4 separate regions of the Homo sapiens genome follow, and all the other regions are linked to region 1. Evidence: fine-mapped QTL for protein levels in blood plasma. A gene starts in region 1. Each other region holds a variant in brackets. All regions are shown on one strand. Distances are from middle to middle.

Region 1 (8,217 bases):
CCAGCACTTCGGAAGGCTGGGGTGAGCAGATCACCTAAGGAGTTCAAGACCAGCCTGGTTTCTAGTGAAACCCCGTCTCTACTAAAAATACAAAAAAATTAGCCAGGCGTGGTGGCGGGCGCCTGTAGTCCCAGCTACTCGGGAGGCTGAGGCAGGAGAATGGCGTGAACCTGGAAGGCGGAGCTTGCAGTGAACCGAGATCGCACCACTGCACTCCAGCCTGGGCAACAGAGCGAGAATCTATCTCAAAAAAAAAAAAAAAATGTGAAAGATGAGCTGTTAACACAATATAGACCAAGTTGCTAAGTTGCCCAAAGAAGAACCAGGAAACAGAGACACTGGGAACAGTTGTATTAGTCTGTTTTCATGCTGCTAATAAAGACATACCCGAGACTAGGTAATTTATAAGGGAACGAGGTTTAATTTGACTCACTGTTGCACATGGCTGGGGAGGCTTCACAATCATGAGGAGCAAAATTATGTCTTACTTACATGGCAGGAGGCAAGAGAGCTTGTGCGGGGATCTCCCATTTATAAAACCATCAGATCTCGTGAGACTTACTCACTACCACGAGAACAGTATGGGGGAAACCATCCCCCATGATTCAATTATCTCCAACTGGCCCCGCCCTTGACACGTGGGGATTCTTACAATTTAAGGTGAGATTTGGGTGAGGACATAGCCAAACCATATCAACAACTACGAACTGACAATGTCTTTCTTCCTTTATCCAGCAAGAGTTTATGTAGATGAGAGTATTTAACAAAACATAAAGAAGTCACTTTTTTTTTGCACATTGAGTTGTAGTTTGAGTAAATTCCATCCCTACTCTCACTACACTACCATTTATAAAGCTCATACTACATACCAGGTGGTTTCCAAAGCTACCTCTTTGAATTAAAGTTTCACAACATCCCTATTGTTATCTGTATTTCACAGCTTGGGAAACTGAAGTTCAGAGAGGTTATGTGACTTATCTGAGATCACACAGCAATTCTAAGCACAAAGGAAAGAGCCTGAAGTGAGAATCAGGAGACTTGCATGTTAACCCTTGCTCTGCCGCTAACTAGCTCCCAGCAAGCATCTGGATGAGGCTCAGCTTCCTGGGATGTTTCCCCGGGGAGAAAACTTTCTCTACCCCTTCAGGCATCTGCATTCTCTCTGGCCAACTTACCCTTTGTGTTTGGTTTCCGTGTGGGTCTTATGTGCCCTTCCCAGCTGTGCATAACACAACATCCTGTGAAGAAAGAAAAGAAAAACACCATGAACCACCAAAAAAAAAAAAAAAAAAAAAAACCTTTTGGGCTCAACCTGCAAAATTACTCCTGGCTTGGCCCCACAGAAATAGGTTTGAAGAGGCTAGATGACAAACCTAGTTAAGGAACAAACATACACTATTTTGCATAAGCTTAACAATGACCATTCCTGGTTTTCTGTACTTTGCTTTTGCTTTTCATTTTGTCTGTCTTTATCTTCTTTTTCTTTTTGATTAAATAGTTCCAGGCTAAGCACTGTGGTGCACACCTATAATCCCAGCCCTTCGGGAGGCCAAGGTGGGAGGATCACTTGAGACCAGCAGTTTGACACCGGCCTGGACAACACAGTGAGACTTTGTCTCTACAAAAAAAAAATTTTTTAAATTAGCTGGGTGGTGGTGACAACTTGTAGCCCCAGCTACTCAGGAGGCTGAGGTGGAAGGATTGCTTGAGCCCAGGAGATAGAGACTGCAGTGAGCCAAGATCATGCCACTGCGCTCCAGCCTAGGTGACCCTGTCTAAAAAAAAAAGTTCTAGCTGATTTTCAAAAACATACATTAAAGCATGCATTCTCAAAAGGGGTGATATATCCTCTAAGGACCCAAACTTGGTTCTCAGGAAGAGATCTTTTTAAGCTTACTCTTTTATGTATAAGATACATATGTATATATAGAAAATACATATATAGGTATACAGTATATCTGTAGTATTAACATTTCATGAGAGGGTAGGGCAATTCGTTTTTCTTTCCTTTTTTTTTTTTTTTTTTTTTTTGAGATGGAGTCTCACTCTGTCACCAGGCTGGAGTGCAGTAGCGTGATCTAGGCTCACTGCAACCACCAACTCCCTGGTTCAAGCTATTCTCCTGCCTCAGCCTCCCGAGTAGCTGGGATTACAAGCACGCACCACCACGCCCAGCTAATTTTTGCATTTTTAGTAGAAACGGGGTTTCTCCATGTTGGCCAGGATGGTCTCGATCTCCTGACCTCATGATCTGCCTGCCTCAGCCTCCTAAAGTGCTGGGATTACAAGCGTGAGCCACTGCGCCCTGCCCATTTTTTAGTGTTTAAAGGCAATGCAGCCCTGCAGCATTTAGGTCTCCTGCACCATCATCATTATCGCCATCATTATCACTATCATCATCACCATCATCATCTTCATCATCACCATCATCATCATCATTATTATCACCATCATCACCATTATCATCATCACCATCACCATTATCACCATCACCACCATCATCATCATCACCACCATAATCACCAACATCACCATCTTCATCGTCATTATCACACCATCATCACCACCATCATCATCATTATCCCTATCATCACCATTATCATCATCACCATCATCACCATCTTCATGGTCATTATCACACCATCATCATCACCATCATCTTCATTATCACTATCATCACCATTATCATCATCATCATCATCACCATCACCATCATCATCACCATTTTCATCATCACTATTATAACCACCACCATCATGATCATTATCATCACTATCATTATCACAACTCTTTGCTGATTATCTTCAGGGCAGAATAGGGAGTGTTAATGGTTAATACCATTGCCAACACCCCAAAATAACAACTCTGCATGCCTACATTTGATGTCCACAGGCCACCTATTTCTTCTAATGTAGCCTGCCAGTCAACAAGTCCCACAGATCTAAACTCCCAAATTCTATCTATTATTACTAACAAAAATTCTTCTACTCATTCATTAATTATTTTAGAGGTAATTCAGCATGCTGTTTAGGCATACAAAGTCTGAAGTCAAAGTGCTTAGGTTTAAAAATCTGGCTTCACCAATTAATGATTGCGTGGCCTTGAGGAAGTTATTTAATCTCTTTGTGCCTCAGTTTCCTCCTTGGTAAAATAGGGTATTCAGATCCACTCTTCAACAGCAGAGGAAACCCATACTTGCTACTTAGAATATGTCCCCAATATCCTCCATTCTTAAATTTGATCCAATGACCAAAACACACAAGACATAGAAGAAAAACCAGAAACACAGAAGATAAACAAGGCTGAGACAAACTGACACCTGAAGAAAGAGAAATAAGAGCACAGGAAGGGTCTATCTCATCCTTCAGGACTCAGCTCGAACTGCCCCTCCTCAACCCCAGACTTCTCCCTTCAACATAACTCCCGACCACATTCTATAACAACTTCTTTCATAGCACTTATCACTACCTGAAATTCCTATGTTTACTTATTTTTTGGGGCAACATAGTATAGTGGAAAAGCTTACAGACTCTGAAGTCAGACTGTCTGGCTTGAAATCCTGCCTCTACCCCTTATTGACTAAGTGGCCTTGGGAAAATTATTTTATCTCTTTTGCCTCAGTTTTCTCATTTGCAAAATAGGACTAATAATGACCCAATGTCATAGAAATGTTGTGACAATTGGATACACTCTATGTTTAAAGAAGTTACAGCAGTGCTAAGTGGGCTATGATCATCTGTGCCTTCTTTCCTGTCTGCTCCTACCCACTAGAATATCAGCCTCAAGAGTGCAGGAACTTAGTCTTTTTTTCTCACTGCTATATCCTCTAGTGCCTAGAACAGCACCTGACACACAGGACTTGCTCAGGTCAAATGAATGACTATAGAGAAAAATCTATCCTAACAGATGGACTTCCCTGAGCTATGGAATTTTGTCAAAGGTTCCCTGAATGAAGGTGTTTGCAGCATCCAGTCTGGACTTATGATCTCTTGGCTGGACCATCCATGGCCCTCCCATTTCTCCTGAAGTCTATTTCCAATCCAGGCCTCCCCTAGCCCCCCATTCAGCCTCACACTCACCCCAGAAGAGGAGCAGGTTGAAGCCACGCATTATGCTGTAGTTCTGTCATTCAAAGAAAAGAAACTTTTCTACTAACGCTGGGTTTTCAGTAACCAGAAGGTGTGCGAAGAGGGGAAGGCGGAGTCAGAGTTGCTCAATGCTGCCTGGTCATCATAGCCCTTTTTGCTGACTTGCTGCAACTAAAAGACAGCCTAGAAAATCCTAATTTCCCCCTTTCTTCACAATAAAGAGAAGTTAATCTGCCTAATGTATATCATTCTCTCTCTCTCTCCTTCCCATGGTCTCTCCCTTTTTCTTTCCCATCAACATCTATCTCCCATCTCTCAACACCTTCTTTCATTGCACCCAATAAAGGAGCTTCCGCTTCCTGCCTCCAGTGAAGCAAATCTCAGCCTTTAGGGTCTCTTCCCAGTCTCCCGTATAAAGACAGCCATCACAACCATCATGTACCAGGCAGTGTGCTAGGCACATTGGCAACAAAGTGTAATTTCATTATCATGTTAACCTTGTAAAGTAGGAATTCCCCTCCCTCCCTCTATTCACCAACAAAATGGAAACTGAGACTTGCAGAGGAGTTATAACTTGTCCAAGATCTCTCAGACTTGAGATTTGAACCCAGGACCCTCTGATTCCAGAGTCAAGAGCTTTAACCATCTTATTTTCCTTCAGATCTCAACTCTGTCTGACGATTATACAGCAACACTTCCACCCCATTCCCAGCTTCCTAACTCTCTCTGGTAACATCTTAGGGTCTCACAAGGGCAGACCCTCAGACAAGGATTCTAGCAAAAGTAGTTTATCAAGAAGGTGGCCCCAGAAAGCACCAGCTGGGGGAGGAGAAAGTGAATCAGGAAAGGCAAAGAGCCAATACTGGGTGTGTCTTCAAATAAGTTACATGGTGAGAAAGTGGAACTTAACCTCCCCAGGGATGACTGGGGAGCGGCATGGAACATACTCTTCAGTTATTCCAACCGAGGGGTGAGGGAGCTGAGGTATTTATATCCCACCTACTGTCAGTCATGGGTTGACTTGAGGCTTGCTCCTAGAGGGTGTCAACCCCTTGAATCTTCAGGCCTGGCCTCCAAGCAGATAGAATGGGCTCCAGTTGATGTAATCCCACTGATAACAAAGTGTAGTGACTGGCAGATATTGAAGCAGTGTCATCCATCTGGGGTAATACCCGAGGTTCATTGCCTCACACCAAGGAAATAGAAAATACAGACATGGCCGGGCACCGTGGCTCACACCTGTAATCTCAGCACTTTGGGAGACTGAGGAGGGTGGATTACGAGGTCAGGAGTTCAAGACCAGCCTGGCCAAGATGGGGAAACCCCGTCTTTACTAAAAATACAAAAAATCAGCCAGTGTGGTATGGTGTTAGGCACCTGTAATCCCAGCTACTCCGGAGGCTGAGGCAGAGAATTGCTTGAACCCAGGAGGCGGAGGCTGCAGTGAGCCGAGATCGTGCCACTGCACTCCAGCCTAGGCAACAGAGTGGGACTCTGTCTTAAAATAAAATAAAATAAAATAAAATAAAATAAAATAAAATAAAATAAAATAAAATGCAGACACACAAAAAATTACTTTTAGAGCAGAGGTTTAGGCCGAGCACAGTGGCTCATGCCTGTAATCCCAGCACTTTGGGAGGCTGAGACGGGTGGATCACCTAAGATCAGGAGTTTGAGACCAGCCTGGGCAACATAGTGAAACCCCATCTCTACTAAAAATACAAAAATTAGCCAGGTGTGGTGGCTCATGCCTGTAATTCCAGCTACTCAGGAGGCTGAGGCAAGAGAATCGCTTGAACCCGGGAAGCAGAGGTTGCAGTGAGCCGAGATTGTGCCATTGAACTCCAGCCTGGGTGACAGAGCAAGACTCCATCTCAAAAAAAAAAAAAAAAAGAAAGAAAGAAAAGAAATTTAATAGGCGAGAGAAAGAGAAAAGCTCTCTCTCCTGCAAAGAGAGGGGGCTCCCAAGTGGGTCTTCCAGTTTCATGGTGAAATGCACGGGGTTTTATAGATGAGCTTTAGGTGGTGATATCTGATTTACATAAGGGCCCAAAGATTAGTTGGACCAGGTGTGCCGTTTACATAGAGTACAAAGAAGCTGGCTGCCCACCCTAATATTTTATTATGCAGATGGGGTCTCTACCTGGCCAGGACCATGTTGCCTGTTCCTTTACCGTACACGTGGTTGATAAAGAAAAGGGAACATGGAGCAAGCCTGCATGTTGAACACGCCTGGCACCCAGGTAGCCTATTCCCATTGGCACAGCTGCCGGCATTCACCCGAGCAAGCTTCCAGCTTGCTTTTCTATGTCTGCCGGCTGATTTTTCAGACTGCTCTTTTTTAGAAAAGAAATTATTTGGCCGGGCGCGGTGGCTCACGCCTGTAATTCCAGCGCTTTGGGAGGCCGAGGCGGGTGGATCACAAGGTCAGGAGTTTGAGACCAGCCTGACCAACATGGTGAAACCCCGTCTCCACTAAAAATACAAAAATTAGCCGGGCATGGTGGCATGCGCCTGTAATCCCAGCTACTCGGGAGGCTGAGGCAGGAGAATTGCTTGAATCCGGGAGGCGGAGCTTGCAGTGAGCCGAGATTGTGCCGCTGTACTCCAGCCTGAGCGACAGAGCAAGACTCTGTCTCAAAAAAAAAAAAATAAAATAAAATAAATGATTTGGGGGCTGCTTTTTATTAAAAGGCAAACCTTACCGAGGACTCTCTTGCCCTCACTCTCTGCCTAAATAACTTCTTTCTAGCTCCCGTATCAGCGTTAAGCTAGGGCATATTAATGTGTTGTTAGGTTATGGGTGTGGGCAGCCACTGATAGCAGCTGTCACAAGGTACAAAGGAGGTGCATAGAACATCCCCGAATTCTTAGAAAGAAAAGCTCCACGTGTTTTTGCCTTCCCCTTTTGTTCTTTGCAAAGCAAACTACCAGCTTTGGAGTTATTGTCACTGGAACAAAGATTCACCAATGGCTTTCTTTTTTTATTTTATTTTATTTTTTTTTCTGAGATGGACTCTCGCTCTGTCACCCAGGCTGGAGTGCAGTGGCGTGATCTTGGCTTACTGCAACCTCCGCCTCCCGAGTAGTTTCTGGGATTACAGGCGTGTATTACCATGCCCAGCTAACTTTTGTATTTTTAGTAGAGACGAGGTTTCACCATGTTGGCCAGGCTGGTCTGGAACTCCCGACCTCAGGTGATCCTCCCACCTTGGCCTCCCAAAGTGTTGGGATTACAGGCCTGAGACACCGCGTCTAGCCAGATTCATCAGTGGCTTTCTGTTTGTGCCTTCATTCTTTCCCCGTTGGCCCCAAGAATACTAGCTGGTGGCGCTTGTGGCTGCAGCATTTACCCAGAGATAACTTTGCCGTGAAATATCTCACCTTTATTATTATTTTTGCATTGCTCTAGTGTATCAACTTTGAAAACAAAAGACATGATTCTATTTATAGTGTTCTGTTTTTAGTAGGGATATTTCCAGATTACTATATTTTACAAAATATGGTATTTTTTACTATATACTATAGTATATTTTACAAAATACAGTAATTCTTGATTGCTGAAAATGTCAGATCCTAGAAAAGTGTAGCATTCCTACGCATGATGTTACTATCATTCTCAAACAGTTGTTGGCTGAAAATTTATCTGATGAATCCAATTTTTCCAAAATTGACGATTCTGATGTTAGTTCTGGTTAGAAATAACTCCAAGAACTGTTTTTATATTTTATTTTCACATTGAAAATCAGTCAGATTTGGCTGGGCACGGTGGCTCACACCTGTAATCCCAGCACTTTGGAAGGCCGAGGTGGGTGGATCACCTGAGGCTAGGAGTTCAAGACCAGCCTGGCCAACATGATGAAACTCTGTCTCTACTAAAAATACAAAAATTAGCCCGGCATGGTGGTACGTACCTGTAGTCCCAGCTACTTGGGAGGCTGAGGCAGGAGAATAGCTTGAGCCTGGGAGGCAGACGTTGCAGTGAGCTGAGATCGCACCACTGTACTCCAGCCTGGGTGACACAGCAAGACTTGGTCTCAAAAAACAAACAAAAACAACAACAACAACAAAACAAAACCCCAAAGAAATATGAATAAAGTGTGTTTTTCTAAAAGAAAAAAAAAAGAAA
Region 2 (7,736 bases), 12 kb before region 1:
CTACCTCTGGCTTGCCCTTGAATTCTCTCCTGGGCAAAGCCAAGAACCCTTGTGAGCTAAACCCCACTTTGGGGCTTACCTGTCCCGAATAAAAAATTAGCTGGGCATGGTGGCACACACCTGTAATCCCAGCTACTCAAGAGGCTGAGGCAAAAGAATTGCTTGAACCTGGGAGGCAGAGGTGGCAGTAAGCTGAGATCAAGCCACTGCACTCCAGCCTGGGCGACAGACCAAGACTCCGTCTCAAAAACAAAAAACAGGCTGGGCGCAGTGGCTCATGCCTGTAATCCAAACGCTTTGAGAAGCCGAGGCAGGCAGATTACCTGGGGTCAGGAGTTTGAGACCAGCCTGGCCAACACGGTGAAACCTTGTCTCTACTAAAAATACAAAAATTAGCTGGACATGGTGCCACATGCCTGTAATCCCATCTACTTGGGAGGCTGAGGCAGGAGAATTGCTTGAACCCAGGAGGGGGAGGTTGCAGTGAGCCGAGATTGTACCACTGCACTCCAGCCTGGGCAACAGAGCAAGACTCCATCTCAAAACAAAACCAAAAAACAAAAAAACCCCAAAAAAACAAAAAACAAACAAACAAACAAACAAAAAGAGGCACACAGTGGAGGGGTTGAGAACATGGACATTCTGGGTTCATAGCCTGGCTCTGTCACTTACAAGCTGTTTGTTCATGGGTGCTATGGACTGAATGGTGCCCCTCCTCCAAATTCCTATATGGAAGCCCTAAGCCCCAGTGGGATGTTATTTGGAGATGTTATTTACTGCTCTATCCCCAGTGCCTAGAATAGTGCCACGTATACTGTAAGTGCTCAAGAGGTATTTCTTTAATGAGTGAATGAATGATTATTGGCTTCAGATTTGCAGATGAAAGTCTCAAACTCAACCAAGACCCACCCTAATCCCCTCACTGCTGTCTTTTCAAACAGACTTGGACCTGACTTCTCAGAAGACACCCCCACCTACCTTCACACGATGCTTTGAGACCCTGGAAACTCAAGTGGCCACTGCTGGATTCAAATCCTGGGTTGCAGAAA[C/G]AAGAGTAGTTTCCAACAGTGTTATTACAAGTTGCATGCTCTGGGCAAGCTCTTGGATCTGCACATTCATCCACGTCTGAAGAGTGGAAGAGAAAACCCAGGTCAAGGTAAATGAGAAAGCAAGGAGTAGAGACTACAAATAGGAGATGCACTCTGAGTGTTGATTTTCAGCAGACAGGGCTGATGCTCCCCAATATCCATGTTCCCCCCTTCTTCCCAGGCACACAGTGGGACATATTTCCCAGTTCCTTCTTTCAGTAGGCATGGCCATGAGAGCAAATTCTAGCCAATAGCATGTAAGCAGAAGGGTGGCAAATAGTTTCAAAACATAATTATCAGAAATTGGAAAAGTAGCCATAGTCCTTTACTTCTCTCTGTATTTACACCCCAAGATGTAGATTGTAAGAGATGTGACTTTACCATACCTTGCATTAAGAGGTGGAGTCTGTTTCTCTACCCCTTAAATACAGCTGGCCCTACGACTTGCACTGACCAATAGAAGACAGTGAAGTAATGAGGTGCTAATTCCAAACCTGGGCCTCAAGAGACCTGTTGGCTTCTGTTCATTCTATTGGGCCTCTGATCTCTGCCATATGAACAAGCCCCTGACTAGCCTAATGAAGAACAAAAGACCAAATGGGAGAGAAATGAATCATCCCAGATGAGCCCCAGACATGTGAGACCCATTCCCTCCTCCTTGTAATAATGTAACAATACAGCTGAGGACTGCATTCCCAGCTTCTCTTGCAGCTAGGTGTAGCTACATGGTGAAAATCTGGCTAAGGAGAATAAATAGAAGTGATGTGTGCACCATCTGGTCATGCCCTTGAAAAGAAAGAGCATACTCTACACTTCTTCTCCCTTTTCACCTGGGCTGGAAGATGGACAGAGTGGGGTGATCCATTCCCAACCATGGGGATGAGGCTCACACCTAAGGTGGCAGAGGCAACAAGACAAAAGCCCAGCCAAGGTCAGCTGACTGCAGACACAAGAACAAGACCAGTTGAGACCAAAAGATCTGGCTAGAATAGACCACTTAAAATGTCAACTCATGGAATCAAGCGCTAAATATATGGTGGTTGTTTTTAGACACTAATTTTTAAGACAATTTGTTACCCAGTGATAGCTCACTGCTACAAATGGAGTAGCAAAGGCAGAGATGATTTCAAACATCTCTTAAACTAAGCCAGGGGGATATAATGAGGGCTTGACCACTCCTTGCCTTTCTCAATGGAGTCACCATCCCATAAATGAATGTGGAGAATAACAATGCACTAGACACAGGAAGATGGAGCTCTTGTCTCTTGGTGAGGACATTCTGGCTGCAGTGTAGAGGATGGATTGGAGAGAATAAGACTGAAAAAGGCAAGACTAGAGAGGAGGCTGCTGCAGTGATGATCAAGCCTGAACCAAGGATGGAAAACAGTGGAGGAATTCAACACATATTTATTTATATATTTATTTTTGAGACAAGGTCTTGCTCTGTTATCCAGGCTGGAATGCAGTGATGCAAGCATAGTGCACTGCAGCCTCAACCTCCTGGTTTCAAGTGATCCTCCCACCTCAGCCTCCTGAGTAGCTGGGACCACAGGCACATGCCACCACACTTGGCTAATTTTCTAATTTTTTTTTTTTTTTTGTAGAGACAGGGTCTCACTATGTTGCCCAGGCTGGTCTCAAACTCTTGGTCTTAAGCGATTCTCCCATCTCAGCCTCCCTAAGTGCTGGTATTACAGGTGTGAGCCACCACACCCAGTCTCAAAACATATTTAGCAGGTAGATTCTCCAAGGTGTGATGACTGCTTTAATGTGAAGGGAGAGAAAAGATTAAAGATAACTTTCTTTTTTTTTTTTTTTGAGATGGAGTCTCGCTCTGTCACCCAGGCTGGAGCGCAGTGGTGTGATCTCGGCTCACTGCAAGCTCTGCCTCCTGGGTTCACACCATTCTCCTGCCTCAGCCTCTCAAGTAGCTGGGATTACAGGCACGTGCCACCAGGCCCAGCTATTTTTTTTTGTATTTTTAGTAGAGACGGGGTTTCACCTTGTTAGCCAGGATGGTCTCCATCTCCTGACCTCATGATCTGCCTGCCTTGGCCTCCCAAAGTGCTGAGATTACACGCAGGAGCCACTGCGCCCGGCTGATTAAAGATAACTTTCAACTGTTAATTCAAATACCTTTTAGGGGAACGTTCTGAAGTTTAGACTTTAGAATCTCCCCAGAATAGGTTTTGTGTGTTTTGTTCTTCTTGTTGTTGGGTATTTTTTTTTTTTGAAACAGAGTCTTGCTCTGTTGCCCAGGCTGGAGTGCAATGGCACAATCTCAGCTCACTCCAACCTCCGCCTCCCAGGTTCAAGCAATTCTCCTGCCTCAGCCTCCCGAGTAGCTGGGATTACAGGTGCCTGCCACCATGCCCGGCTAATTTTTTGTATTTTTAGTAGCGACAAGGTTTCACCATGTTCGCCAGGCTAGTCTTGAACTCCTGACCTCAAGTGATCCATCCGCCTTGGCCTCCCAAAGTGCTGGTATTACAGGCGTGAGCCACCGCGCCCAGCCCAGAATAAGGTTTTTCCACCTCAGCACTATTGGCATTTAGGGTCAGATTATTCTTGGTTGTGGGGGCCTTTCGGTGCATTATAGGATGTTTAGCAGCATCTCTGACCTCTTCCCATCAGATGCCATACACAGCACCTCTCCCCACCATCACCGGTTGAGACAATCAAAAATATCTCCAGATGTTGCCAATGTCCCCTGGGGAAAATATCGGTCTGGAGACAAGTGCACCCCATTATATTCTGATACCATTGTTTGACTTATAGTAGGTCCTCAGCAGGAGTTCAAATCCCAGCTCTTCCACTTAATATTTGCATATAGTTCACAGATCCTATAAAGCAATTACACAACTGAGATCACAAAGCAAGTAGCGAGCAACACTGTGACAGGAACAAAACCCTCAAATATCAATATTAACCTTGAACAGAAATGGCCTAATGCTACACTTAAAAGATATAGATTGTTAAACCAGATAAAAATTTTTGTAAAAAAGACCAAACCATGTGCTGCCTACAAGAGACCTACCTAACATGTAAAGACACCCACAGGCCCAAAGTAAAGGGATAGAAAAATATATAGGCAACTATATATTTTTACCTCTCTGAGCCCCAATTTTCTCATCCCTACATGAGAAAATCCCTTTCTCATATGGTCTTCCAGTGAGATGACCCTTAATTAATTAAGCAGGTAAATAATAAAGAGATAGAGTTTCTAGAGATGAATCCAACTTGACAGCTGCAATTGTAGCTTCCCATGGAGTTGACACAGTCAGAATGCTCAGGGCAGACGCTGCTGGTGAGGGACTCACTGATATTTGCAAAGCAGTGAAAGAGGGTGAGCAGATAAGAAATTGGGTGCCTCAGTTCAGAAATACATGAACTCACCCCACTGATAGATATCCACTCAAGACCCATCCCTGGGAACCTGAGGGCATCACCAGTACAGGAGAAATTGCCCGGCTTTCCTGGGATCCAGTCATTTCCAGTGGGAGAAGAGAAACCATCTAAACAGCTGCACTTGTACCTCCCTGACATGTTTTTGCAGGATGAATTAGGACCACAGGGCTGGGGGCTTTGAGAACATTCATCAATATCTAGACAGAGAATTGGAGTTACAAATTCACTTATACTAGATAGAAGACTGTATTTTGCCAAAAAAAAAAGTTAAAACAATATCTCCCATCCCATATGCGCTTCACTTTGGTACTTCTTCTGTCAAGCAATGGAAGGTACGTCCCCATCTTGAATCTGAGCATACTTGTGACTATGGTGGAAGTGACACTAGGTCATAAAAATATCATGTACTTCCACCTTGTTCTCTTGGGATGCTTATCCTTGGAATCCAGCCACCATATTGTGAGGAAACTCAACCATCCATGAAATTTTACAGTGACCAGGAATTATTTACATGATCAGAGAGAGGAAGGGTGGGGAAGTAGGAAGGAAGGAAGGAAGGAAGGAAGGAAGGAAGGAAGGAAGGAAGGAAATCATGTTTGCTAGCAATACTAGCTAGCAATGCTGTGACAGGAACAAAACCCTCAAATATCAATATTAACCTTGAATAGAAATGGCCTAATGCTCCACTTAAAAGATATAGATTGTTAAACCAGATAAAAAATTTTTTAAAAAGACCCAACCATGTGCTGGCTACAAGAGACCTACCTAGCATGTAAAGACACCCACAGGCTCAAAGTAAAGGGATAGAAAAAGATATAAGCAACTATATATTTTTACCTCTCTGAGCCCCAATTTTCTTATCCCTACATGAGAAAATCCCTTTCTCATATGGTCTTCCAGTGAGATGACCCTTAATTAATTAAGTAGGTAAATAATAAAGAGATGGTCATGGATACCTTCACAGGTGGAGTTTCTAGAGATGAATCCAACTTGACAGCTGCAACTGTAGCTTCCCATGGAGTTGACACAGTCAGAATGCTCAGGGCAGACGCTGCTGGTGAGGCACTCATTGATATCTGAGAAGCAGTGGAAGAGGGTGAGCAGATAAGAAATTGGGTGCCTCAGTTCAGAAATACATGAACTCACCCCACTGATAGATATCCACCCAAGACCCATCCCTGGGAACCTGAGAGCATTACCAGTACAGGAGAAATTGCCCGGCTTTCCTGGGACCCAGTCATTTCCAGTGGGAGAAGAGAAACCATCTAAACAGCTGCACTTGTACCTCCCTGACAGGTTTTTGCAGGATGAGTTAGGACCACAGGGCTGGGGGCTTTGAGAACATTCATCAATATCTAGACAGAGAATTGGAGTTACAAATTTACTTATACTAGATAGAAGACTGTATTTTGCAAAAAAAAAAAAAAAAAAAGTTAAAACAATATCTCCCATCCCATATGCACTTCACTTTGGTACTTCTTCTGTCAAGCAATGGAAGGTATGTCCCCATCTTGAATCTGAGCATACTTGTGACTATGGTGGAAGTGACACTAGGTCATAAAAATATCATGTAGTTCTACCTTGTTCTCTTGGGATGCTTATCCTTGGAATCCAGCCACCATATTGTGAGGAAACTCAACCATCCATGAAATTTTACAGTGACCAGGAATTATTTACATGATCAAAGAGAGGAAGGGTGGGGAAGTAGCAAGGAAGGAAGGAAGGAAGGAAGAAAATCATGTTTGCTAGCAACACTAGCTAGCAATGCTGTGACAGTAACAACACCCCCACATATCAATATTAACCTTGAACAGAAATGACCTAATACTCCACTTAAAATATATAGTTAAACCAGATTTAAAAAAAAATGGGGGGTGGGGGAGTACCTACATTCAATACCCAGCCAGCTTTGACTTGATTTTCCTACCAAATGCTGGATGGTTTGAGGGGACATGAACTCACCTTTGCATCGCACTCCTGGATCCTTGAAGTGATTTTGCCCATTGCTGGACAGGAAGCCTTGTTTGCAAGCGCAATAGTAACTGTCCACTGTATTGGTGCAGGTGGCATAAGCTGGGCACAAGGTACTGTCTCTACAGTTATTACCTAGGCAGTGTATAAAGAAAAGTTTAGACAAGATTAGAGCATTAGAGTGAGGCTGCAAGGGAACCCAGCATACAAGGGTGGAGGTGACTGTTATGGGTTGGATTGTGTTCCTCCCAAAAGATACGTTACAGTCCTAAACCCTGGTACCTGTGAATTTCATCTTATTTGGAAACTGGGTCTTTGTAGATGCAATTAAGATAAAAGTTAAGATGAAGTAGTGCTGGAGTAGGGTGGGCCACAGGTGTCCTTATAAGAAGAGAAGAGACACACAGACATGCACAGGGACAGTGCCATGCAACAGTGCAAACCGGGATCAGAGTGATATGTCTAGAAGCCAAGGAACACCAAGGATTGCCAGCAATAACAAAAGCCTTAAAAAAAGGCATGGAACAGATTCTGCCCTATAGCCTTTGGAGAAAGACTGGCCCTGCCAATACCTTGAATTCACACTTCTGGACTCCAGAACTTGAAGAGAATAAATTTCTGTCATTTTAAGCAGCCCTAGGAAACGGATACAGCAACCAATCATATTTAACCATGTACCTCAAAGATCCTAGACCCTTTCTACTCAGAGTAGGGTCTGTGAGTCAGCCACATAAGCATCTCCTGGGAGTTAGATGGAAATGCAAAATCCATTGAATCAGAATCTGCATTTGAACAAGATCCCAGGTGATGTGTGCGCACAGGGAAGTTTGAGAAGCACTCATCTGGATCCTTGCTACCCAAAGTATCCACAGACCAGTATCACCTGCCTCCCCTTGGATTCCAAGAACATCTTGGAAAATCAGGTACTAATTCAGCAGGTCTGGGGAAGGGGGCCGGGGATTTTGCATTTCTAACAAGTGCCTGGAGGATGCCAATTCTGTTGCTCCATGGATCACACCATGAACATCCAAGCACTAGACAGAAAAGTGTGAGAGTGAAAACTGCAAATTTCGGGACAAGGCAGATCTGAGTTCAAGTTCCAGCAGCAAACCTCAAAGCCAAGAATGGTGGCTGTTCCCCCAAATCCATTCCACCCTCTTCCTTATAATAATAGAACCATCCAGTTTAGGACTGCATTCCCAGCTTCTCTTGCAGCTAGCTGTGGCCACCTGGTGAAAATCTGGCCAAGGAGAATGAATAGAAGTGATG
Region 3 (8,000 bases), 22 kb before region 1:
GCTCCTTTTTCTGATTCAAGAAGCCCCATCAGAAATACAAATTCAGGCCGGGTGCAGTGGCTCACACTTGTAAGCCCAGCACTTTGGGAGGCTGAGGTGGGTGGATCATGAGGTCAGCAGTTTGAGACCAGCCTGGCAAACATAGTGAAACCCTGTCTCTACTAAAAATACAAAAAAATTTAGCCGGGCATGGTGGCACGTGCCAGTAATCCTAGCTACTTGGGAGGCTGAGGCAGGAGAATCACTTGAACCCAGGAGGCAGAGCTTGCAGTGAGCTGAGATCGCACCACTGCACTCCAGCCTGGGCGACAGTGAGAGAGGCTGTCTGAAAAAAGAAAAAAAAAGAAATACAAATTGAAGTTCAGGAATTCAAGACCAGCCTGGACAACATAACAAGACCCCATCTGTACAAACAAATTAAAAAAGAGCAGGCACGGTGGTGCATGACGCTAGTCCCAGCGACTCAGGAGGCTGAAGTGGGAGGATCTCTTGAGCCCTGGAGTTCAAGGCTGCAGTGAGCTATGATCACTCCACTGCACTCCAGCTTGGGTGACAGAGTGAGATCTTGTCAAAAGAAAGCAAGAAAGCAAGCAAGAAAGACAAATTGATGTAACCTTTATGCAATGCAGTAAGTTTGTACCCATAGCCATGTAAATTGCATATACCCTTTGACACAGCAATTCCCCTTCCTGGAATTAATCTTTTCAGAAATACTTAAAAGTTGTGCAAGGATCTTGTCCAGTGATGTTCATCTCAGGATAGTTTGTGGAAAGCCTAAATGCCCTACAGACTGGGTCAATAAATGAAGATGAAATCAAATAACAGCCATACAGCTGTTAAAATGAATATTGCAGTATACCTATAGGCATTAACAAGCAAAAGGGTCTCTGAGCCACTGTTCACTAAAGCAAATTACAGAGTATCATGTATATAGTATTGCATTTGGTTTAGAAACAATTGGTTTAATTTAAAATTTTATATTATGGTATTTATGTTCTGGCATATAGAAATAAAAATAGCACACACTTATTACGAGCCAGGTATTGCTCTAAATGTCTTTTATATATTAACTTGTTTAATTTGTAGAAGATATCTATGAAGTAGAGGCTATTTATGATTATTTTGATTTTTGAAAGGAGAAACAAGGACTCATATCTAGCAGGTGGAAGAACCACGATTTGAACCTTGGCAGTCTGGCAGCAGAGGCTGAATCATTAATCACTGTCCTAAACCTCTCATAGTAAGTGCTCAATAAAATGACTGCACTGTGTGTGCATGTGTGTGTGTGTGCTTATATATGTGGGTGTGTGTATATGTGTGTATGTGTTGGGTTGTGTACATGCGTGTGCATGTGTGTATATCTCTGTGTATGTCTATGTATGCCTATGTATGTATGTGTGTTTGTGTATATGTATGTATACGTGTGTGTATATATGTGTGTTTGTGTATGTGTGTACATTTGTATATGCCTGTATGTATATATGTGTGTATGTGTGTCAGGAGTGTGTATATGTGTGTGGATGTGTATGTGTGTATCTGTGTGTAGATGTCTGTGTATGTCTGTATGTGTGTATGGGTACATGCATAGATGTGTGTATACATGTGTGTATGTGTGTAAATGTGTGTGGGGTGTATGTGTGTAAATGTGTGTGGGGTGTGTGTATGTGTGTAAATGTGTGTGGGGTGTGTGTGTATGCATTTGTATGTGTATGTGTGCATGTGTATGTATGTTATATGTGTATATGCATATGTATATGTGTGTATGTGTGTACATACTGTGTGTGCATGTGTGTGCATGTGGGGGAGGTGTATATGTGTGTGTACACGTGTGTATACGTGTATGTATTTGTATGTATGTGTATGTGTGTGCGCATGTGTGTATATGTGTGTGTGTTTATTTGTATGTGTATGTATGTATATGTGTGTATGTGTGTACATGCTTACAAGGTAAAAAGATAGGGGAAGATACTTATCTACCTCTTAACACTGGATGTGTTTGAGGAATAGGATTAAGGTAAGAAAAACAATAACAACAATAGTAATAGTAATATTCATATGATTCCCCTTATTATTGATTATTATCAATAAATTGACTATCACATGTGACTCTGACCCAAGCAAAAAAAAAAAAAAAAAAAACTAAAAGGAATCCAGAACCTAATAAATGCAGGAAAATGCATTAAATGAATTAAATCCAGTCAGATGGTAGAGGAAATTAAACTGAAATTTGAGCAGCAATACAAGTTTCTATCTATCCAAATTAGATGATAAAAGGAAAAAAAGGATTTCAATAAACACGGGGTAAGCGGGACATTTGAGAGATATTTGTCCAAGAGAAACAGGAAGCCCTGAGCTCTGTAATCCCCAAAAGGCATGGGTGTGGGACTCCCCTCCCCACTGACATAGCAGAAACATCTCAACTAGGACCATCTCCAGGAAACATAGTACTCAGTTCGACAACTGGCAAAATCTCTTCAAATCCCGCCCCTCTGATATGTTAAATTTATTCTTAGCTAGGGAAGTTATTTTATATCCTCAGGAAAGTTAGAAAATTTTAGGCAAACTAAACATCCTTAGTAGGATTTGTGTTAAATTTAGAAGTTTTTGACATCTTTAGCATAATCTAGAAACATCTCCTATTTAAAGAGTTGGGGCTGGGTGTGGTGGCTTATGCCTGTAATCCCAGCACTTTGGGAGGCTGAGGTGGGTGGATCACCTGAGGTCAGGAGTTCGAGACCAGCCTGGCCAACATGGTGAAACCCCGTCTCTATTAAAAATACAAAATATTACCCACGCTTGGTGGTGGGCGCCTGTAGTCCCAGCTACTTGGGAGGCTGAGGCAGGAGAATGGCATGAACCCGGGAGGCGGAGCTTGCAGTGAGTCAATATTGCGCCATTGCACTGCAGCCTGGGCAACAGAGCAAGACTCCATCTCAAAAAAAAAAAAAAAAAAAGAGTTGGAACAGTTTGACACATTAGAGAAGCTAACCAATAAACCACATAATTTTATTGCAAAAAGCAATTAGACTTGTTATTTTAATATGAACAATTTAAGAGAACGTGGCTATTTATAAACCATATTGAATGTCTAAAAGAATCTGAATTATTATATTTATAGATTCGATCGATTGGATTTATGAGTCGCTCAGGACCCAAGTGACTTTGCCTATTAGATTTGTAAATCCTCTTCACCAGGTACTTGAAATTTGGGTGGAGCGGGAGGGGGGAATTGGAATATTTATAAACATAGTATAAAACATTCGAGGAAATTGAACTAAGTTTGTAAATAGGATTAATCATTTATCAAAATTTAATCTGAAAACCCTAGGGATGAATGTATACTTTATGAATAAAAATAAATGTATTAATTTAAAATTAATACAATTATAAGTAAAAGTGTTATTCTTATTTTCATACAAAAATAACCAGATTTATAAAGAAAATGACAATATCAATGAGTTCAACTTAAAGCTTAAGAAAAACTAGCTTTTGGCTAGACTTGGTGGCTCACACCTCTAATCCCAGCACTTTGGGAGGCCGAGGCAGGTGGATCGCCTGAGGTCGGGAGTTTGAGACCAGCCTGATCAACATGGAGAAACCTCGTCTCTACTAAAAATACAAAATTAGCCGGGCATGGTGGCGCATGCCTGTAATCCCAACTACTCGGGAGGCTGAGGCAGGAGAATCGCTTGAACCTGGGAGGTGGAGGTTGCGGTGAGCCAAGATCGCACCATTGCACTCTAGCCTGGGCAACAGAGCAAGACTTCATCTCAAAACAAACAAACAAACAAAACAAAACAAACAAACAAAAAAAACCACCAACCAATTCTGTCCCCCTGAAAAGATGAGAAAGATGAGAAAGTTCTTGAGATGGATAATGGTGATGGTTATATACAGCAATGAGAATGTGCTGAATCTCATTAACAGTAAAAAGGAAGGAAAAGAAAGAAGGAAGAAGGAGGAGGAGGAGGAAATGGCATTGTTTATATACACACTATCCAGGCATCTCAAATGCACTATGCTGAGTCAAAGAAGCCAGTCTCAAAAGACCACATACTATGTGGTTTCATTTATATAACACTCTTCCAAAGACAAAACTCTGGTGACAGAGACCAGATCAGGGATTTATAGAGTTTAGTGGTGGAGGGAGTATCTGACTATAAAGGAGAAGCCCAAGGGAATGTTTGGAGATAATTAAACTGTTCTGCATCCTAATTATAGTGGTAGTTCAACAAGTCTATTCAGGTGAGAAAACTCATCAAACTATACAAGTAAAAAGGTAATTTTACTGTATGCTAATTTTTCAAATCTTACAGCTATAAAAAATTAAATATTAATTCACAATCCATTCATTATAAAGAGATATTTCTTTCTTTCTTTTTTTTTTTTTTGAGATGGAGTCTCAGTCTGTTGCCAAGGCTGAAGTGCAGTGGTGCTATCTTGGCTCACCACAACCTCCACCTCCCGGGTTCAAGCAATCGTCCTGCTTCAGCCTCCTGAGTAGCTGGTACTATGGGCACCTGCCACCATGCCCGGCTAAGTTCTGTATTTGTAGTAGAGACAGGGTTTCATCATGTTGGCTAGGCTGGTCTTGAACTCCTGACCTCAAGTGATTCATCTGACTCAATCTCCCAAAGTGCTGGGATTATGGGTGTGAGCCACCACGCCCAGCCATAAAGACATCTTTCTGCACCCAAAGTGTGCCCAAGATGTTTGAAACTCAAAACACAATTTAAAAGACCCAATCGTTACCTTCAGAGAAACTACGGTCGTTTTATTTTCACACACTTTGTCCAGAACGCTGAAGATGTTATTTATTTGTGCACAAAAGGAGACCTGCGTCCCAGAAAAAAAAAAAAAGAGCATTTGTGAGCATGAATCGATGTATTCCCCCAAGCATGTAATCTACAAATTAGCCCATAAAGCCCATCATATGAGGTGGCTCTGAATTCCTGAGTCTCTAGAATTCTCAGGGAAACTAAAACTCATTACTTGATCAGAATTAGAATCACATCACCTTTTCCTTCCATGAATAAAAAAAGCAAACATAAACAAATAGCAAAACTACTTAGTGATTGCTGAAACCAGCTCAATCGGGGACACCCTAAGCCAGCGGCACTAGAGAAATTATAGACACACACACAGGAATATAGAGGTGTGAAGTGGGAAATCAGGGGTCTCACAGCCTTCAGAGCTGAGAGCCTTGAACGAGGTTTACCCACGTATTTATTAACAGCAAGCCAGTGATAAGCATTGTTTCTATAGATATTAGATTAACTAAAAGTATCCCTTATGGGAAACGAAGGGATGGGCCGAAATAAAGGGATGGGTCTGGCTAGTTATCTGCAGCAGGAGCATGTCCTTAAGGCACAGATGGCTCATGCTATTGTTTGTGGTTTAAGAACGCCTTTAAGCGATTTTTC[C/T]GCCCTGGGCTGGGCAGGTGTTCCTTGCCCTCATTCCGGTAAACCCACAACCTTCCAGTGTGGGCATTATGGCCATCATGAACATGTCACAGTGCTGCAGAGATTTTGTTTATGGCCAGTTTTGGGGCCAGTTTATGGCCAGATTTTGGGGGGCCTGTTCCCAACCAGTGATATTAAAAGAAGAGGAAATGTATGAACTAACAGTGGTCCATGTGGAATATTATTCAGCCATAAAAAGGAATGGAGTTCTCTGATATGTACTACAGCATGAAAGAACCTTGAAAATATCATGCTAAGTGAAAGAAGCCAGACACAAAGGAGCAAACATTGCATGATTCCATTTCTGTGAAATGTCAAGAATAGACAAATCCACAGAGACAGAAAGCTGATTAGTGTTTGCCATGGGCTAGTGGGAGGGGAGAATGGGGAGTGACTGCTTAGTGATAAAAATATTCCAGAACTTGGCTGAGCACGGTGCTCACACCTGTAATCCCAGAACATTGGGAGGCTGAGGCAGGTGGATCACTCAAGGTCAGGAGTTTGAGACCAGTCTGGCCAACATGGCAAAACCCCGTCTCTACTAAAAACACAAAAATTAGCCAGGCATGGTGGTGGGTGCCTGTAGTCCCAGCTATTTGGGAGGCTGAGGCAGGAAGAATTGCTTGAACCCAGGAGGCGGAGGTTGCAGTGAGCCAAGATCACCCCACTGCACTCCAGCCTGGGCAACAGAGCAAGACTCCATCTCAAAAAAAAAAAAAAATTTCTAGAACTAGATTGAGGTGATGATTGCATAACATTGTGAATGGTCTAAGTGCCACTGAATTGCACACTTTAAAATAGTTAAAGTGGTGAATTTTATGTTATGTGTACCTCACCACAATTAAAAAAGAAAAACAGTGGTCCAAGGCATGTGGGAAGCCCATAGCCAATTTACAAGCTCATATTTAGAATAGTGACATTGATTTCTAAAGAGGTCATGGAGTCTTTACTCATTGTAATGACTTCATTAGACAGTCAGGATGTCCAAATTCCTTTTGGCCTGGCTGGCTGTGTAACACCCCCACACCAACATTACTCAGTTGCAGCATCAACACCTTCACTGGCAGGAAGACTCCAATATATTCTCCCGTTCTTTTATTAAGAGAATCCTCAAGTTTTAGATAGGCAAACATTCTCTCTTCCCAGCTTCCCTTGCAGCTAGGTGGGACCATGTGACTAATTTCTACCCAATCAGGTGCAAGCAGAAGTGGTGCTGGGTCATACGCTTAAAGAGAAGGACCGTACTTTTCACTTCCTCTTCTCCCCTTCCCACAAGCTGGAATGCAGATGTGAGGGCAGGAGCTGGAGCTGCCACCTTGGGCCACAAAGTGGGAGTCTTGTGTTGATGCTGGCAGAGCATAATGGAGCCATGGTATGAGCTCTGCACAGCTTACACTCAGCAGGTTACAGAGGAGAAAAATAAACTGCTGTCTGGTTTTGGCCACTATTACTTTTGCCTTTGTTAGAACTGCAAAAACAACATTCTACCTAAATGGCTTCTAAGAAAACCTCAAAAACTAGGAACCTTAAAAAATACTTGCATATGCAGGTTTCACTGCGGTTCCCTCTTGGCATTGCTGGATCTGCTTATTATCGGGTATCACATCTTCCTTACATTTGAAGAGAACCCCTAGGAAGAAAACAACAGCAACCAAACCAAACTTCAACCTCAGCAAAATAAGATGAAAATTCAAGTCTGATTTCATGTCCTCCCGTGCCCGACTTAAAATCCATCTATTACCCTAATACACAAGGGGGAAAATGAACAAACCACAACTACACACTACAACATGAAGGACGTGTTTACTACAACACACAATTTTCTAATTTGCTCGGTTTCACTCAATATCATGCCTCTTAGAGGCAATCATGCATATGATTGTGGATGTATGTCTTTTATATGTGTGACTTCTCACTCAATATTATGTCCCTGCACAGCTTACACTCTAAGAGGCATGATATTGAGTGAAACAGAGCAAATTAGAGAAGTCATACATATAAAAGACATACATCTATAGTCATATGTAGTATGATATCATTTTTACAAAGCTCCAAACACAAGCAATACTAGGCAGATATTGTTTAGGGGTACATACCATGGGAAAATATTTTTTTAAGTAGGGAAATAATAAACACAAAATTCCAAGTGGCTGTCTAAGGAGGATACAAGGAGATAGAATGGAGAAGAAACATATAGGAGAACCAGCGACATTGATGATATTATCTTTATTATATTTGGAAATACATCAGATATATTCATTTGCTTGTTATACTTCATTGCCTCCAATAAGTTACACATATTTTTAATGTAATAAATAATACATAATTTAACAGTTTTAAACCTTTCATGGTTCCCCATTATTCTTGGGGGGAGGGGAAAGGACTCTGAAATTCTTTTTTAAAAGAAAGGTTGGCCGGGCACGGTGGCTCACACCTGTAATCCCAGCACTTTGAGAGGCTGAGGTGGGAGGATCACAAGATCACGAGTTCAAGAACAGCTTGGCCAACATGGTGAAACCCCATCTCTACTAAAAATAC
Region 4 (8,217 bases), 13 kb after region 1:
TCAGACAGAACCTTATAAGGTGGGTGAAAGAGTTTAGGCTTTACCCTCGGGGCAATAAAAGGAGGTTCAGCAAAGGAGCCACAGGCTCAGGTTGGAATTTTATGTTTGTGTTTTGTAGGTGGGTATTGGACAGGATGGGTTCACAGGTGGGCAGATAGGGAGGAGGCTGGGGATACAGCCAGGAGAGAGAAGAGAACAGTGGCCTGGTCTGGGGCAGGGGCTATAGTGACGGAGAATTTAGGAGGCAGGAACAACCGAATTTGGGGACTGTCTAGATGTAGCAGGGGAGTTTGAGACAGAAGAAGGATTCGACATTTGGAGGCTGGGCTAAAGAGTTGGAAGGTTTTGCAATCAAACCCAGATCCCTTCTGGGGATGGGGATGGGATGAGGCTTGCCACGGACCTGGCAGCTTGGGGAAAACACAGATTTAGTATATGATGGGTCCAGAGGTCAGAGTCCTCTCGAGTCTCATGGGACTAAAACCAAGATGCCAGCAGGGCTGCAATCCTTCCCGAGGCTCCAGGGCAGAATCCATTCCTTGTCCTTTCTGGCTTCTGGAGGCAACCCACATGCCCTGGCTCATGGTCCCTTCCTTCCTATGCAAAGCCAGCAGCTAGCAGTTTCAAATGTCTCTTGCGTACTCTAAATCTCTCGTTCTTGCTCTCTCTCTCTCTCTCATTTTCCCTCTCTCTTGCTCTCTCATTCTCTCTCTTTTTCTCTGTCTGTCTCTCTCTCAAGTTCTCTCTCTTGCTTATTCTCTCATTTTTCCCTCCCTCTTGCTCTTTCATTCTCTCTTTTTTTTTTCTCCTTTTTTTTTGAGACAGAGTCTCAGTCTGTCACCCAGGCTGGAGTGCAGTGGTACGATCTCGGCTCACTGCAACCTCCGTCTCTCGGGTTCAAGCGATTCTCCTGCTTCAGCCTCCCGAGTAGCTGGGATTACAGGCATCTGCCACCATACCTGGCTAACTTTTGTATTTTTAGTAGAGATGGGGTTTCACCATATTGACTAGACTGGCCTTAATCTCCTGACCTCAAGTGATCCGCCCGCCTCGGCCTCCCAAAGTGCTGGAATTACAGGCGCGAGCCACTGCGCCTGGCCCATTCTGTCTGTCTTGTTCACTCTCCTTATTGCTCTTGTTCTCTCTCTCTCTCTCTCGTTCTCTCTCATTCTTTCTCTCTCTCTCACTCTCTGTGTATCTCTATCTCTCCATCTCTCTCTCTCTCCCTGATCCTCCTGTCTCCTTCTCGTAAGAATTCTTGTAATGACATTAGGCAGAGGTTGCAGTGAGCTGAGATCGTGCCATTGCACTCCAGCCTGGGCAGCAGAGTAAGACTCTGTCCCCACTCCCCCCACCTCCCCCCCAAAAAAATAGCCCTTAACTGAATCCCATCTGCAAAAGTCCCTTTTGTCATAGAAGGGAACACATCCTTGGGCTTTAGGGATTAGGCTGTAGGTGCCTCGTGGAGGGAGAGGAGGCCCTTTATCCCACCTACCACAGGCAGGGTATCGGGTCCTAGTGAGACACTGAAAACCCAAGACTCCAGACACCCTTCAAACCCACAGAGGTGACCGAAGCTATATAAAGACTGTCCTGCAGCGGCCCTGCAGAGTTGCGGGTGGGGGTGTAAGAACAGGAAGGGGAAAGATGTGGAAGAGGAAATCAACAATTCTGGCCAAGAAGCTTACAAAATCTAACCCCTAATGACTTCCCTAGCAAAGGGGAATACAAGGGACTCTCAAGATTGAAGAAATCAGCCTGGGGAGCTGCAGGAACATCACTTACCGTCACACAGAGTGCCGGGAAGGGGCAGGGAAGTTGGGGAATCCCTGCCTAACCTGTCCACGCCCTGCTTAGACTCTAAACCCTTCCATGGCTCCCTATTGCCCTCAGGATGAAGTTCAGGCTTATTAATATGGCACTCAAGGCTCTACGTAGTCTGACTCTGGTCTCCCCATCTTGTTTTATTGATCTCCACTCCCCCTAAAGCCCTAGTGATCAGCTAGACACAGTGGCTCATGCCTGTAATCCCACCACTTTGGGAAATCAAGGCAGGAGGATCGCTTGAGCCCAGGAGTTCAAGGCAACATACTGAGATCCTGAATCTACAGAAAAAAATTTTTTTTTAATTAGTTGGGCATAGTGGCTGGTGCACACCTGTGGTCCCAGCTACTCAGGAGGCCAAGGTGGGAGGACTGTTTGAGCCCAGGAGTTCAAGGCCAGCTTGAGCAACATGGAGAAACCCCATCTCTATAAAAGAAAATTTTTAATAAGCCAGGCCTAGTGGTGTATGCCTGTAGTCCCAGCTACTCGGGAGGATTGCTTGAGCCCAGGAGGTCAAGGTCACAGTGAGCCGTGATGGCACCAGTACACTCCAGCCTGGGCAACAGAGTGAGACCCTGTCTCAAAAAAACAACAACAAAAAGCCCCCCAGTGATTATAAAATACTTGAAGTCCCTGTTGTGGGTGCAGTCAACGCTCTGCTCACTGACCTTTCCCAGGCTGGTGCACCCATCCTGGGGCTGCTGTGAGTGAGTGCTGCCTACAATAGCTCATAGCTCACAGCTTCCCCCTTCTCCTCAGCTGAGCAACTGTGCAAACCCTCAGACCCAGCCCACAGCCATAACGGATGGTCACAGAGGTGCAGAAGGCCAGCCCCATGCCCCCAGGGTGAGACCAACCTGGTGGCACCAGTCACACTCCAGGGCTCCCCATGGGATCCGGCTAAGGCTGGACTCCAGCTAAGACCACTTCCTTGCTTAGCTCATTCCCTTGCTCTGTCCTGATCTTCTCCCTCAAAAACACCTGTGCACAAGAAACCTCACAGCAAGTTCTACTTCAAACTCTCTCTCTTTTTCTTTTCTTTTTTTTGAGACAGGGACTTGCTCTGTTGCCCAGGCTGGAGTGCAACGGCTCAGTCACAGCTCACTGCAGCCTCAACTGCCTGAATTCAAGCAATCCTCCCACCTCAGCCTCCTAAATAGCTGAGACCACAAGCATACCCTACCATACCCTGCTAATTTTTTTTTTTCTCTTTTAGAGATGAGATCTTGCTTTATTGCCCAGGCTGGTCTCAAACTCCTGGGCTCAAACGATCCTCCTGCCTCAGCCTCCCAAAGTGCTGGGATTACAGGCATGTGCCACCAAACCCAGTTCTCTCTTGACACCAAGTCTGAAATGCACATTCACCCCAATCCTATACAACCTTTCTGTGTAAATATCACCTCCTCCAGGAAGCCTTCCTTGACTTCCACTTGAGAGTGAGGCGCCTCCTCCATCCTCCCCCCCCATCACCATAGTCAGTATTATCTATGCTTGCTTGAATGTCTGTTTCCCTCAAAAAACTGAGCATTTTCTCAGGGCAGGGAAAGAATTTCATTGGCTGTTGTATCCTAGAAAATAAAGAAACAAATGAGGAAAAAGAAGGGAAGAGAAATAGATGAATCTACTGAACTTTGCATCCCTACCCCGCTTCCCCAGAAGGAAGACCACAATTCTTGAGGGGGTGAGAAATGAACAGCAGCTGCCCTTTTGCAGGAGAAAAGAATCAGGGTTTCTAAGAGGGAGGTGGATGCAAAGACTTCATTGTCCTCCAAAGACTTCATGGTTTATCTATGGCTCCTAAGGCTCTTTCTTTAAAGGTAGGGGTGGTTTATCAGGCGTCCCGGAGACCCCCCTCCCCAAGCTCAATGATTCTCTAAGAAGACTCAGCATATAGTCTTGCTAATGGTTATGATTTGTTACAGTGAAAGGATACAGAGCAAAAAGTCAGAAGAGGGAGCCAGGTGTGATGGCTCATGCCTGTAATCCCAGCACTTTGGGAGGCCGAGGTGGGTAGATCACTTGAGGTCAGGAGTTTGAGACTAGCCTGACCAACATGGTGAAACCCCGTCTCTACTAAAAATACAAAAATTACTACAAGTCTGTAGTCCCAGCTACTTGGGAGGCTGAGGTAGGAGGATCGCTTGAGCCCAGGAATTTGAGGCTGCAGTGAGCCATGATTGCACCCCTGCACTCCAGCCTGAGTGACAGAGGAAGACCCCATCTCTAAAAAAAGAAAAAAATTGAGAAGGCGTTCTGACAGTCCCACTCTACCCAGATGAAAAGAAATCATTTTCTCAAAAAAATACCCACACTTGTAGGTTTATCACAGCACTATTCACAAGAGCAAAGATATGAAATCAGTCCAAGTGTCTTATCTACAGACAACTGGATAAAGAAAATGTGGTGTATGTGTACTGGGTCTGTCCCGCAGACCCTGGCCGATGGGATGAAATGAGTAGTCAGACACAGGTATGCAGTGTAAGAGCAGCCAGGTGACTGCCTGGCTCTAGCGGCCAGAGAGCAGCCCCGAGAAGCTGGAGCTGCTTGCATTTGTTCAGTGTGGGCACAATGCCAAAAACATGGAGTACACACAACCTGTAGGTAATTAACATTTATTGCTCCCCTTTCAGGGAACATCACATAGGCAGATGATCAAAAGTCAGTTCCTGGTCAACGTAAGTAAACAGGCCTGCTTAAGATAAATTCGCCCACACTCCCTTGTACCTACTCCTTGCCCTCTGCCTCAGGGTTATAGAACAGCTGCCTTCAGCTATTCCTCCCCCGGGGCTCTGCAGAACCTTCCAAACTTTCAGAAGGTTTGAGTCCTTTCCTTATAGTTTTTCCAACCACTCTGACTGAACCCCCCACATATATGAACTGTGGAATACTACTCAGCCATAAAAAAGAATGAGATCATGTCTTTGGTAACACCTGGATGGAACTGAAGGCCGTTATCTTAAATAAAACAACTCAGAAACAGAAAGTCAAATCCACATAGTCTCACTTATAAATAGGAGCTAAATAATGCGTGCACATGGACGTAGAGTGTAGAATAATAGACACTGGGGACTTGGAAGGGTGGAAGGGGAGTGAGGGATGAGAAATTACTTAGTGGGTTCAATGTACATGGCTCGGGTGATGGCTACACTAAAAGCCCAGACTTCACCACTAAGCAGTAATCCATGTACCAAAACTGGACTTGTACCTCATACATTCATGCAAATTTTTGAAAAAAGACAGAAAAGAAGCCAGACACAAAGAGGGAATAAACTAAAAGGATCTTGTATTAT[C/T]CAAGATTCTCCAGAGAAACAAAACTAAGAGGAGAAACAGAGAGACAGAGAGAGGGAGACAGAGAGTCAGAAAGAGAGAGAGAGTGATTTTAAGGAACTGGCTCACGGGATTGTAGGGGTTACAAGTCCGAAATCCCTAAGGCAATCTGACAGGCTGCAGATTCAGGTAAGAGGTGATACTGCAGTCTTGGGCCCAAAGGCTTAAAGCACAGGCAAAATGTCTTTCTTCTTTTAAAATTTATTTTATTTTATTTTATTTATTTTTTGAGACAGAGTCTCACTCTGTCACCCAGGCTGGAGTGCAATGGCGCAATCTTGGCTCACTGCAACCTCTGCCTCCTGGGTTCAAGCGATTCTCTCGCCTCAGCCTCCTGAATAGCCGGGATTACAAGCATGCACCACCACGCCCGGCTAACTTTTGTATTTTTAGTAGAGATTAAAAATGGGGTTTCACCATGTTGGCCAGGCTGGTCTCGAACTCCTGACCTCAAGGTGATCCACCCACCTTGGCTTCCCAAAGTGCTGGGATTACAGGCGTGAGCCACCACACCCAGCTTTGTTTCTTTTTCTTTTTTTTTTTTTCCCCGAGAGGGAATTTCACTCTTGGGTTGCCCAGGCTGGAGTGCCATGGCGTGATCTCGGCTCACCGCAACCTCCGCCTCCCGGGTTCAAGCAATTCTCCTGCCTCAGCCTCCCGAGTAGCTGGGACTACAGGCATGTGCCACCATACCCAGCTAATTTTGTATTTTTGGTAGAGATGGGGTTTCACCATGTTGGCCAGGCTGATCTTGAACTCCTGACCTCAGGTGATCCACCCACCTCGGCCTCTCAACGTGCTGGGATTACAGGTGTGAGCCACCGCACCCAGCCTTGTTTCTTTTTAAAAACATTTTTAAATGTGTATTTTTAGTTCTGGGGTACATGTGCAGGATGTGCAAGTTTGTTACACAGGTAGACATGTGCCATGGTGGTTTGCTGCAGCTATCAATCTGTCGCCTAGGTATTAAGCCCAACATGAGTTCACTATTTTTCCTAATACTTTCCCTCTCCCAACCCCACCCCCTGACAGGCCTCAGTGTGTGTTGTTCCCCTCCCTGTGTCCATATGTTCTCATTTTTCAGCTCCCACTATAAGTGAGAACATGTGGTATTTGGTTTTCTGTTCTTGCGTTAGTTTGCTGAGGATAATGCCTTCCAGCTTCATCCGTGTCCCTGCAAAGGACACGATCTCATTCCTTTTTATGGCTGCATAGTATTCCATGGTATATATGTACCACATTTTCTTAATCCAGTCTATCATTGATGGGCATTTGGGTAGATTCCATGTCCTTGCTATGTGAGTAGTGCTGCAATGAAAGTACACATACATGTATCTTTGTAATAGTATCATTTATATTCCTTTGGGTATATTTGCAGTAATGGGATTGTTGGGCCAAATGGTATTTCCGGTTCTAGATCTTTGAAGAATCACCACACCATCTTCCACAAGGGCTGAACTGATGTACTTTCCCACCAACAGTGTAAAAACATTCCTATTTCTCTGCCACCTCGCCAGCATCTATTGTTTCTTGACTCTTTAATAGTGGTCATTCTGACTGGCATGAGATGGTATCTCATTGTGGTTTCAATTTGCATTTCTCTAATGATCATTGATGTTGAGCTTTTCTTCATATTTTTGTTGACTGCATGAATGTCTTCTTTTGAGAAGTGTCTGTTCATGTCCTTTGCCCACTTTTCAATGGTGTTGTTTGTCTTTTTCTTGTAAATTTGTTTGAGTTTCTTGTAGATTCTGGATATTCGACCTCTGTCAGATGGATAAATTGCAAAGATTTTCTCCCACTCTGTAGGTTGCCTGTTCACTCGTTTTTTGTTTGTTTGTTGCTTTTGTTTTTGTTTTGTTTTGTTTTTTGAGACAGAGTCTTGCTCTGTTGCCCAGGCTGGAGTGCAGTGGCACAATCTCGGCACTGCAGCCTCAGCCTCCTGGGCTCTAGTGATCCTCCCACCTCAGCCACCCCAGTAGCTAGGACTACAGGCATGTGCCATCATGCCCAGTTAATTTTTTGTTTGTTTGAGATGGAGTCTTGCTCTGTCACCCAGGCTGGAGTGCAGTGGCATAATCTCGGCTCACTGCAACCTCCTTCTCCCAGCTTCAAGCAATTCTCCTGCCTCAGCCTCCCATGTAGCTGGGATTACAGGCACCCACCACCACGCCCCGCTAATTTTTATATTTTTAGTAAAGACAGGGTTTCACCATGTTGGCCAGGCTGGTCTCAAACTCTTGACCTCATGATCCACTCTCCTCAGCCTCCCAAAGTGCTGGGACTACAGGCGTGAGTCACCAGGTCCGGCCATTGCCTGTTCACTCTGATGACAGTTTCTTTTGCTGTGCAGAAACTCTTTAGTTTAATTAGATCCCATTGGTCAATTTTTGCTTTTGTTGCAATTCACAGGCAGAATTTCTATATCTCTATGTTAAAGTCTGAAGTCAGAATTCCTTCTTCTTCGGGAAACCTATCTTTGCTCCTAAGGAATTCAATTGATTAGAAGTGGCCCACTTACTTTATAGAGAGTCATCTAATTTACTGAAAGTCAACTGACTATAAACATTAATCATAGCTTAAAAATACCTTCCCACAGTCTAGACAAGTTGACATATAAAATTAACCACTCTATGTATTTGAAATTCTAGAAAACACAAACCATATATGGTTAGGGGTAGAGAAAGCAAATCAGTGGTTACCTAGGGCCGGGGTGGAGGGAAGGATGAATTACAAGAGGGTCCCAGGGGACTTAGGGGAATGATGGAAATGATCTATGTATATTCTTTAAGATGGAGTCTTATTCTGTTGCCTAGGCTGGAGTGCAGTGGTGCAATCTCGGCTCACTGCAACCTCTGCCTCCTGGGTTCAAGCAATTCTCCTGCCTCAGCCTCCCAAGTAGCTGGGATTACAAGCGCGCACCACCATGCCCAGCTAATTTTTGTATTTTTAGTCGAGACGGGGTTTCACCATGTTGGCCAAGCTCGTCTCCAACTCCTGACCTCAAACGATCTGCCCACCTTGGCCTCCCAAAGTGCTGGGATTACAGGCATGAACCACCGTGCC

Direction of the effects. Alleles are on the strand shown, and positions count from the first base shown. The strength of an association depends on the size of the effect and on how common the allele is. Not every link is listed here.
For the plasma level of the protein whose gene starts at base 4,140 in region 1, allele T in region 4 goes with a higher level than allele C (moderate association).

The links. PIP is the chance, under the fine-mapping model, that this variant and not a neighbour inherited with it causes the effect. The UK Biobank Pharma Proteomics Project read protein levels with antibody pairs (Olink). The fine-mapping took linkage between variants from a reference panel, not from the people measured, so its PIPs are less certain.
Region 2: its variant is fine-mapped to the plasma level of the ADGRE1 protein (UK Biobank, PIP above 0.99). The variant lies in the coding sequence of ADGRE1. If it changes the protein, the assay may bind it differently, which can mimic a change of level.
Region 3: its variant is fine-mapped to the plasma level of the ADGRE1 protein (UK Biobank, PIP 0.99).
Region 4: its variant is fine-mapped to the plasma level of the ADGRE1 protein (UK Biobank, PIP 0.97).

The regions. Positions count from the first base shown.
Region 1 is chr19:6,883,502-6,891,718 of GRCh38, reverse strand. ADGRE1 (adhesion G protein-coupled receptor E1) reads right to left here and starts at 4,140. Exons shown (of 21, transcript NM_001974.5): 1 at 4,080-4,140; 2 at 1,176-1,238. The coding sequence starts at 4,110. RefSeq lists an enhancer at 4,087-4,146.
Region 2 is chr19:6,895,264-6,902,999 of GRCh38, reverse strand. ADGRE1 (adhesion G protein-coupled receptor E1) reads right to left here. Exons shown (of 21, transcript NM_001974.5): 3 at 6,459-6,602; 4 at 5,696-5,851; 5 at 5,453-5,572; 6 at 979-1,125. It overlaps LOC105372256 (a long non-coding RNA gene), which reads left to right. Exons shown (of 3, transcript XR_936288.4): 3 at 942-1,008. Among named protein-coding and RNA genes, the nearest start is that of ADGRE1, 12 kb to the right of the region's middle. The variant C/G (reference allele first, on the strand shown) is at 1,050.
Region 3 is chr19:6,905,525-6,913,524 of GRCh38, reverse strand. It overlaps ADGRE1 (adhesion G protein-coupled receptor E1), which reads right to left. Exons shown (of 21, transcript NM_001974.5): 9 at 7,004-7,092; 10 at 4,753-4,836. It overlaps LOC105372256 (a long non-coding RNA gene), which reads left to right. Exons shown (of 3, transcript XR_936288.4): 2 at 1,137-1,240. Among named protein-coding and RNA genes, the nearest start is that of ADGRE1, 22 kb to the right of the region's middle. The variant C/T (reference allele first, on the strand shown) is at 5,424.
Region 4 is chr19:6,870,414-6,878,630 of GRCh38, reverse strand. No RefSeq gene overlaps it. Among named protein-coding and RNA genes, the nearest start is that of ADGRE1, 13 kb to the left of the region's middle. The variant C/T (reference allele first, on the strand shown) is at 5,115.